Homo sapiens: one gene and its partner. The protein of the gene in region 2 interacts with the protein of the main gene of each other region in a biochemical or structural test. Each region holds a gene or a part of one and is shown on either strand. Other genes may lie near its edges. The genes, in order: LGALS8 and ITGA4.

The links.
Region 1: the proteins of ITGA4 (region 2) and LGALS8 form a complex in vitro, tested with the Homo sapiens proteins (one study listed by BioGRID).

What each region holds. Positions count from the first base shown.
Region 1 is NC_000001.11:236,547,836-236,551,760, reverse strand, and holds part of LGALS8 (galectin-8), read right to left. Parts: exon of another isoform or gene 3,800-3,925; intron 3,750-3,799; coding exon 3,600-3,749; 3' UTR 860-3,599; coding exon of another isoform or gene 771-859; 3' UTR 1-770. Other genes in the region: HEATR1 (HEAT repeat-containing protein 1), read left to right, coding at 771-859.
Region 2 is NC_000002.12:181,460,240-181,464,164, forward strand, and holds part of ITGA4 (integrin alpha-4 isoform 1 preproprotein), read left to right. Parts: intron 1-3,925. UniProt on the Homo sapiens protein: Integrins alpha-4/beta-1 (VLA-4) and alpha-4/beta-7 are receptors for fibronectin. They recognize one or more domains within the alternatively spliced CS-1 and CS-5 regions of fibronectin. They are also receptors for VCAM1.

The DNA of each region.
Region 1 (3,925 bases), on a different chromosome or scaffold from region 2:
GTAATCTTCACGATCTTTTCTTTTGTGGTGGTTTGTGATCATACAAGCAGATTACAGTAGTGTTTTTAATTAACCTCATACATTTATATGATTGAAGTTTTGGTCCCCAGATTGTATGGAAATGCCTAGTGGCATTAAGGATGCAGTAGGATGTCCACTTTTAGTAGCAACCGATGTTCATTCACTACTCCATGTTAGGTGCTTTACTTGGATTATCTCACTTAAAAACCACAACATTTTATCTCTGTTTTACAAAGGAAGAAACTAGAGGCTTAAAAGATTTCAGTTATTTGACAAAGATCACAAGCTAGTGAGTGTGACATGGGGAGCTGTGACAGTTCTGGAACATAGAGTCTTAGGCCCAGGAAATAACAGTAAATGTTATTATTAAGGGAGGGGTGGTGGAGCAAGTAGATCAGTCCTTTACTGATTCATTGCTTATCTAAGCTACAAAAGTACATTCTCCTTTGTTTCTTAGCTCTTGGAGGGGGGAGGTGTGAGCTACTAAAGGGGTGGCATCCCTAGGAAGTTTGAGTTTTGGGGATTCTTATTCAGCTTCCAGTGCAAGCCTGTGGGCAAGGAATGAAGGCGGAAGGAGCGGTGTGGAGGGAGGCGGTCCGTGGCGCCTCCTGCTTTGTTAATGTGCTTCATTTCACTCTTTTGATTGAATGATTGCCGGAAAGTGCAAGGCATTAAGAATTAAACTAATGAGAACCGAGGCAGGCGGACTGACTCAGATTTTAATTTTGATTTTTTTTTTTTTTTTTTAGATGAATGTGAAGAAGTAGAACATCAGTGCCAAAAGACTATTCAGCAACTGGAAACTGTCCTGGGAGAGCCACTCCAGAGCTATTTCTAAGACTTTCTGTGGTGTTTCATACTCTACTCAGAGTTCACACTCATATTTCATATTTTTATTTTTGGGTGTTGGGTGCCATGTTACTTTTGGTGCCTTAATACACCTACTTGGATTACTTACAAATGTTTTATCACTTCTTTACAAAATCCCCACCTGGCTTGTGCTGCCACATAAGCCTCTCCTGCCTATCGTATAGAGCTGCAGAAAGAGTAAATGATACACGGTATTTTTATACAGACTGCTGTGTTTGTTTAAACATTTATTATTCTCTTCCTGATTGATGGTAATAATATTAGACTTGTTAATTTTAGCACCCAAAGCTGACGCCTCATTTGCACTGTAAGCCTTAACTCTTCTGTACAGCAGTATCTTACATACATGGTATCCATGTTGCAGATTTCACTCAAAGTTGCTCTATTTCAAGAAAATGAAGTTATTTAGCAATCAACAGAAGTACTTTTGACTGTAAAGCCTACTTTTCATTTTGGGTAGGCGAACTTCAGCCTTCGTTTCTTTGTTGTGCCCATAAAGAGAAGTGGTTCTGGAATGCTTTTTTTAACCCAGGAGTGTGACTGTCACCTTTATCCTTTGTTCTTTTGGGAAACGGGAGAGATGAAGGCAACACGCTGCTTCTAAAACAGCTCACACCTGGCTGCTCACACAGAGGGCCCAGAAACACTGGGTGGCACGAGGAAGCTCCTCCAGGATTCAGAATGAACCCAGTTCCATTGGTGGTTAACTAAGAACTACTTGTCTAAGAAAGTAAGTATCAGTAGATTTTTTTCAATGCTTTGAAGTGCCCTAATCTCTAGTACTGGGTCATGGTGAAGTTGGAAAGTGAGGGTTCAAATAAAATTAGATCTGCCCCCTTTTTAAAGGCATCTAAGAACATCCCGTAGAATGTTCGCATTGAGTTTAAAAGCCTTTGAAGCTAATATAGAAGTTTAATGCAGAAATGTGGCAAGCAAAAGGCCAACTTGCATTTTAGAGACAGAGCTTGCTAGTATAGAAGTGCATATTTCTAAGAAATGTCTCAGTAAAATTCATTAATAAATACTAATAGCTTTTTAAATTTTTTTCCTCCACGTAAAATGAAAATGAACTTAAGACTTACAAGGAATGATGTGAGTGGGCTATTTTTTTCCTAAATGCCTCACAGTCTCCAACAGCTCAGTTAAGCACTCTGATGGTCTTTATGGAGAAAAATAACTCTGGGGGATTCTCGAGTCTTCTTGCCTTCTACAGCTTTCCCTGTGGCACCCTCCACCCCCAACCAGTGTCTTTGAGCTTGGTGAGACTCTGCATACATTAATATGAAAAGCTGGAAAAGAATTAAGGGCTAGCGATTTCTACACTGAGTACTTTTAAAAAAATAAGATTGACAATGGTATTCTTTTCAATATATGGATAGAAATAATATCTAAAATCTGTTCTGAAAATATTCCTAAATCCTGGCAGAGTTCTGCCCCAGTCTAATGTGATAAAATGATCCTCACTGACTGAGCTTTTTTCCCTCCCCACTCCCAAACCTTTGAAATTTCCTGTAACAAGATCTGACCTGTAAAGATCCCATATACATGGAACTTCTGCCAACTCCCCTCAAATAATAGAAAAATCACAGAAATGGAACCATTTAACTTGCTGATACAGGTTTGATTTTAATCACGTAAAGTGGAAGAGTGCTTTGATCTCAGTTGCTAATGATGATGGACTAATCTTTAGAAGAACGGAGGCCTTGATTGGTGATTTCATGGGAACAAAACAGATTTCTGCATTACCTCTGCCTGCTTTGTGGGTCCCTTAGTTGGCGTACACTTTCTGATAGTGCCTGCCTTATGAATGCCTGAAGTCTAATCCTGACCTTACTTTGTTGCCCATAAATATCTTTCAAATTGAATGCATCTTGCCTCTTCCTGAAACTTTCTGTAGGCGTCTGTGTAGACTCTGATTTGCCCTAAGTTCAAATACACAGAAATCAGCTGCCTTGGGCTTGGCATCAAGTTAATTTCAGCACCATGTATTTGTTTTGCTTTGGTTTTTTGCCTTAATTTCTGTGCTCAGATGTCATGCCAATTACTTGGTAAAGCTTGCAGCTAATAGAGCCACATGTTTATTACGATAAAGAAAATGATGTCAGTCAACATCAGTCCTCAGTGATGGGATACGGTAGAGCACTGGTTATGACAGTGATCACTGGGGAAGGAGTTGTGTCTTCTGTAAGTTAGTGTCTTCGGGTGATTTAATATCTGCATAACTAATCCCAGAGGACCCCTTAGGAGTTGATGTAATGCCTGTAGAAAAAGCAGTGCGCAGCAGTAGCGCACAGAAGAGTCGAAGCTCAAGAGAACAGGGAACATACTGGTTTGTTTCACCAAGTATATATCCTAGCTCTTCACAGTTTTACCAAAAAAAATCTGTGCTCAATACATGTTAGCTACTGTATTATAGTAGGTACTCCATAAATACTTGTTGAATGGCATTCTTGAAGAGTCAGCCAAAGTAGGAGAGAGGGCAGAGTGGCTTTAACTGGCTATAAGTGTTGCTGCCCCCAGTTTCCCCATTCAGTGCTAGACACCACCATACTTCATGGCAAGGACTGAGAACACCCAGCAGGACCTAATGGTGCACAAGCTCATTTTAACAATATAAACAATAGAATGACAGTGAGATGCGTTTCAGCAAGGCCAGTATCACAGAAGCCATTCTGTATTTTGGTTTTTGTAGCAGCTGTGTAGGTAGGCTACCAGCTCCTTACTTCCAGTAAGTGGATGTCTCCATTAATTTCCAGCGTGTCAATACTGCTGAGCTCTTTAAATCTGTGTTTGTACTCCAGGCTGTGTACGCCATTTACTGCAACCTTGAATTCTCTAACATCACAATAAATTATCATCTGAAAGGAAAGGATACATGCCATTAGTGGTTCCCCTTAGTTTAAAATTTTGTGTTTGTTACATGCTAACGGTGTCAGAGTAAACCATTTGATTATACATAGAAAAGTTCCAGCCTGCTGCTGCTGACTTCCTTCTGACTTCCAAGACCCTAATCTAACTAAAGTGTCCCTGGTGG
Region 2 (3,925 bases):
AATGAGTTAAAACATTAATAGTGATAGTAATGCCTTGAGTATTTGCCGAAGAGTTGACTGAAGTTATTTCTCATGTAACATTCTAAAGAATACAGATATCTTTTATTCCTCATGTAAAGAAACTGCCTCTCTATTCAGAATAAATTCAGTGGTAGCTTGAAGCTATAAAATAGGGATTGAGGCTACAGTCTAGAAATAAAACACTAAAAACAATACATTGGTAATAAAGATAATTTAGGATTCTTAGGTTTGTGGGCTATGCACTATTTTGTATGAAGAAGTTTCAAGAGTGTGTGTAAATATATATAAGCCATCTTCTGTAGAAGAGTGTGTGTGTGTGTGTGTGTGTGTGTGTGTGTGTGTGAATCTTCTGTATAAAATAGCTTCAGTTGTCCTGTTTCAAATGTGGGTGACTCTAATGTTTCAAAAATGCTTAGCTCAGTACTGACACATAATACATTCAAAAAATAGTGGTTCTTCTTTATTGTTTACTTAAATCTATTATCTGTATGTTATCTGTAACAAGCAGGCTGAGGTTAATAGGGACAATTGATAAACTGAACCAAAAGTTTAAAAATTAAAAGGTAATACATTAAAAGGTAGAAGTTGAAATGAAACACAATGAGAAATTTTTGTTGGCTGAAGAAAAAAATGTTATAATGATTAAAGATCGATCTGTGATTGCCATGTCAGTAAGGTATCTTCTTTCCTTTGGAATAGCTTTACTTGCTATCAAGAACCTGAAGGTGTAGGGTCTTCAAATGGTGCCCATCTCCCACACAATTAAAAATATCCACATGGACTAGTCTTTGAGTCTCTGTAGAATTTCAGATCAGTGGTTGATTCAGATAGACTCCTCCCCTCAAAAGAGAAGGTCCATATCTCGCCTACCCTACCCTCTGTGGACAAGGTGTCCCATATGGTATATTCATGCCATAAGCAGAAGTGAGCCTGCCTGTTTATCTAGAATGCCCAGGGTGAGAGACGTTAGGCATGAGATACCCCTTTTAGTCAAGCAAGTTGACTGCAGAGCCAGCACCAAGAGAGTTGCCTGGATAGTACCGCAAGGTGCTTTTCTTCCTGCATATATATTGTTGGCCTCCTTTTACCTCCCTGACTCCCCAAGAGACATCTCTTCTCTCACTTCTTTTGTACCAGAGGAAAGTGGTCTCTCTGCCAGGAGGGTCTGGGCCCAGACTTGCTCGTGAAGACTATATCTGAGGAGACCCAGGTGATTTCTACATGTCCACTTTCCACCCGGGCACTCTGCATCATCAGGCTTGTTTAAAGGAAACTTTAATCACAGCTGGTTCCTAAATTAAGGTGTCACAAATAATGACTCAATTAATATAGTTAAGCATAGTCCATCCATGGACTATCAATATTCAAATAGAACATAATAAAACATAGAAATGATTATCAAATTACACTAAAAAGATGGTCTTTATTTGGTTATTCAAATATGTTTCCAGATCTTTCATTACTTTGGAGTTACCACTGAAAGCATTATACACACACTAACTCTCATTTGGGTAATAGTCTAAAGTTATACAATTACACTATCCAGTATAGTATCCACTAACCACAGGTGGCTTTGAACACATAAAATGTGGCTAGTCAGCGATGAGAGGGCTGTAATGTAAATTACATACTGGCTTTTGAATACTTAGTATAAGAAAACTCATTAATTTTTATGATATATATTGAAACAAACACTTTAAAATTATTGATTACATAATATTTTGGATTTATTAGGCGAAATAAAATTTTAGGTTAAATAAAATTAATTTTATTTTTACTTTTTTCATGTGGCTATTATAAAATTTAAAATTTCCAATGGGCTTGTATTATATTTCTATTGGACAGCACTGCTGTAGAGAAACATTAAGTTCTCTGTGTAAAAATAACGCTATCTCTTTAGGAGATGCTTTCCTGATATTTATGCATAAATGAGTAGAACTTTCACTTTCTTTTCTAGACTAAGTGTTCTATAGTTACTGGGCCTTCAAGCTGCCTGCCTGTCCCTCTCTTACAGGAAAGACCCATCTCAAGTTAGTCACCATTACCCATATTTAGATTTCTTTCTGGAAATTTTATTACCTTAGCCAGCCTCCTGGTTCATATTATATAACCTATTTGAAAGAATTTAATTAGCATTGCATTATTAAACTAATGATTACCTAATCCTCACTTCTACTTGATTCATAGGAGTTATTAGCTTAACATTAAATAGCAAATATCTCACTGTTGAAACTTCAAATATGTTTTTCTTGATAACTTTTTACTTTTTCATTTGCAATGTGCTTTAAATTGTAGCTTATGAAGCTGAGATTGCAGATTGGTCATTTTGAAAAATCATCCCTGAATGAAGGCTGTTATACAATTATGTAGAAAATCAAGACAGAGAGCTTCACTAATAAACTATCAGGTTACCAGAAAGAAGTTTCCTTATTTCCAGCAGTTTCCCAAACTTTATGTCCCAAAAGGATGAGGTTTCCACCTAATTTGAGAGATGAGGCTTTCTAAATGCACTTTAGTTTTTGCCTTAAGTTTACTTGGTCACTGAGTGATATACCCAATGACTTGAAAATATATCCCCTTGGCAACAGTTCTAGGGTCAGATGCTGAAATCCGTTGCACATGTGGGTAATTTATCCATTCAGTTGTTCATTGAGGGATGCCTAAGGGCCTGAACCTGGGCATACAAAAGAAACATACTCCTTGTCCCAAAGGCTTTAAAGTTTATAAGATAGGTTATTATAGGAAAGTATGGTGAGATTTAATCTAGGTAAGACAATAAAGTGATGCATTCCTGAAGAATTGGTGTTCAAGTGGGGGAACTGAAAAATAATCAGAAGTTAGCCAGAGGAAGAGGCTATGGAAAAGTTTGCCAGAAAGAGCAAACTGTGTGTATAAAGACCCTGAAGTCTTTGAGAGCACGATGCTTTTGAAGAACTAAAAATTGTGTACAGTTGCACTATGGAGTGTGAGCTAAACTGTAGGTTAGAGAGGCAGGCAGGAATTACTTCTGATACAACTCTAAGTATGAATTTACCCTAGGATATTTAAAACTGGGGAGTGACATGATCAGATTTGTGTGTTTGACAGATTCTCTGGTTGCAGGTTAGTGAATGCTTTGGAGTAACTGGGTCAAGACTGAAGGCAATGAGGCAGTTGTAGGAAGATTTTGTTATAATTTAGACTACAGATGACAAGTGTCTGTACAAGGACACTGGCAATAGCAGTGGAGAAGAACATGGAGATTCTGAAGGTATTTAGGAGATAGCACTTGGTAATTATTGAATGAAAGAGATGAGTGAGAATGTTCCAAAGATGTTACTGAAGTTTCTAATTTGGGCTGTGACATGGATGATGATCCAATATACTGAAAAAGGGAAGAGCAGCAGGTTTTCTGGCAAAATGATGAGTTTCGTTGGCTTGAGATTCCTGTGAGACATAGAAGTAAAAATCTAGTGATCAGTTCTATGATCAGTTCCATGTATGGGTGTGGTAGACAGTAGAGAGGTCTGTACTAGCAAATCAGAGGTGAGTAATTGACGTAACCCCATTCACCTCCAAGGCTTTGATTACCATCTCTCTGGGGTAAATAGATCAAATGGCCAATGGCAAATTTCTAAGGATTCCTACAGTTCGAGAAGTGATTAGAATAGTGCTGCTCAAGTCTGGCTGTAACTTAAATTCTCATGCAGAGCTTTTAACAGTTCTGGTGGCCCATCTCAAACTACTAGAATCTCTGGGGTAAGTCTATAGGGCACCAGTAGTTTCCAGAGGTCCCCAGATGATTCCAGTATTCATCCATGCTTGAGAACCGCTGGAGAAGAAAAGAGGCTGAAAAAAAGGCTAAGAGGGTGAAGCCAAAGAGGTAGCAAGAAAAATCAGGTCAATCTGACATTAACCTGATTAA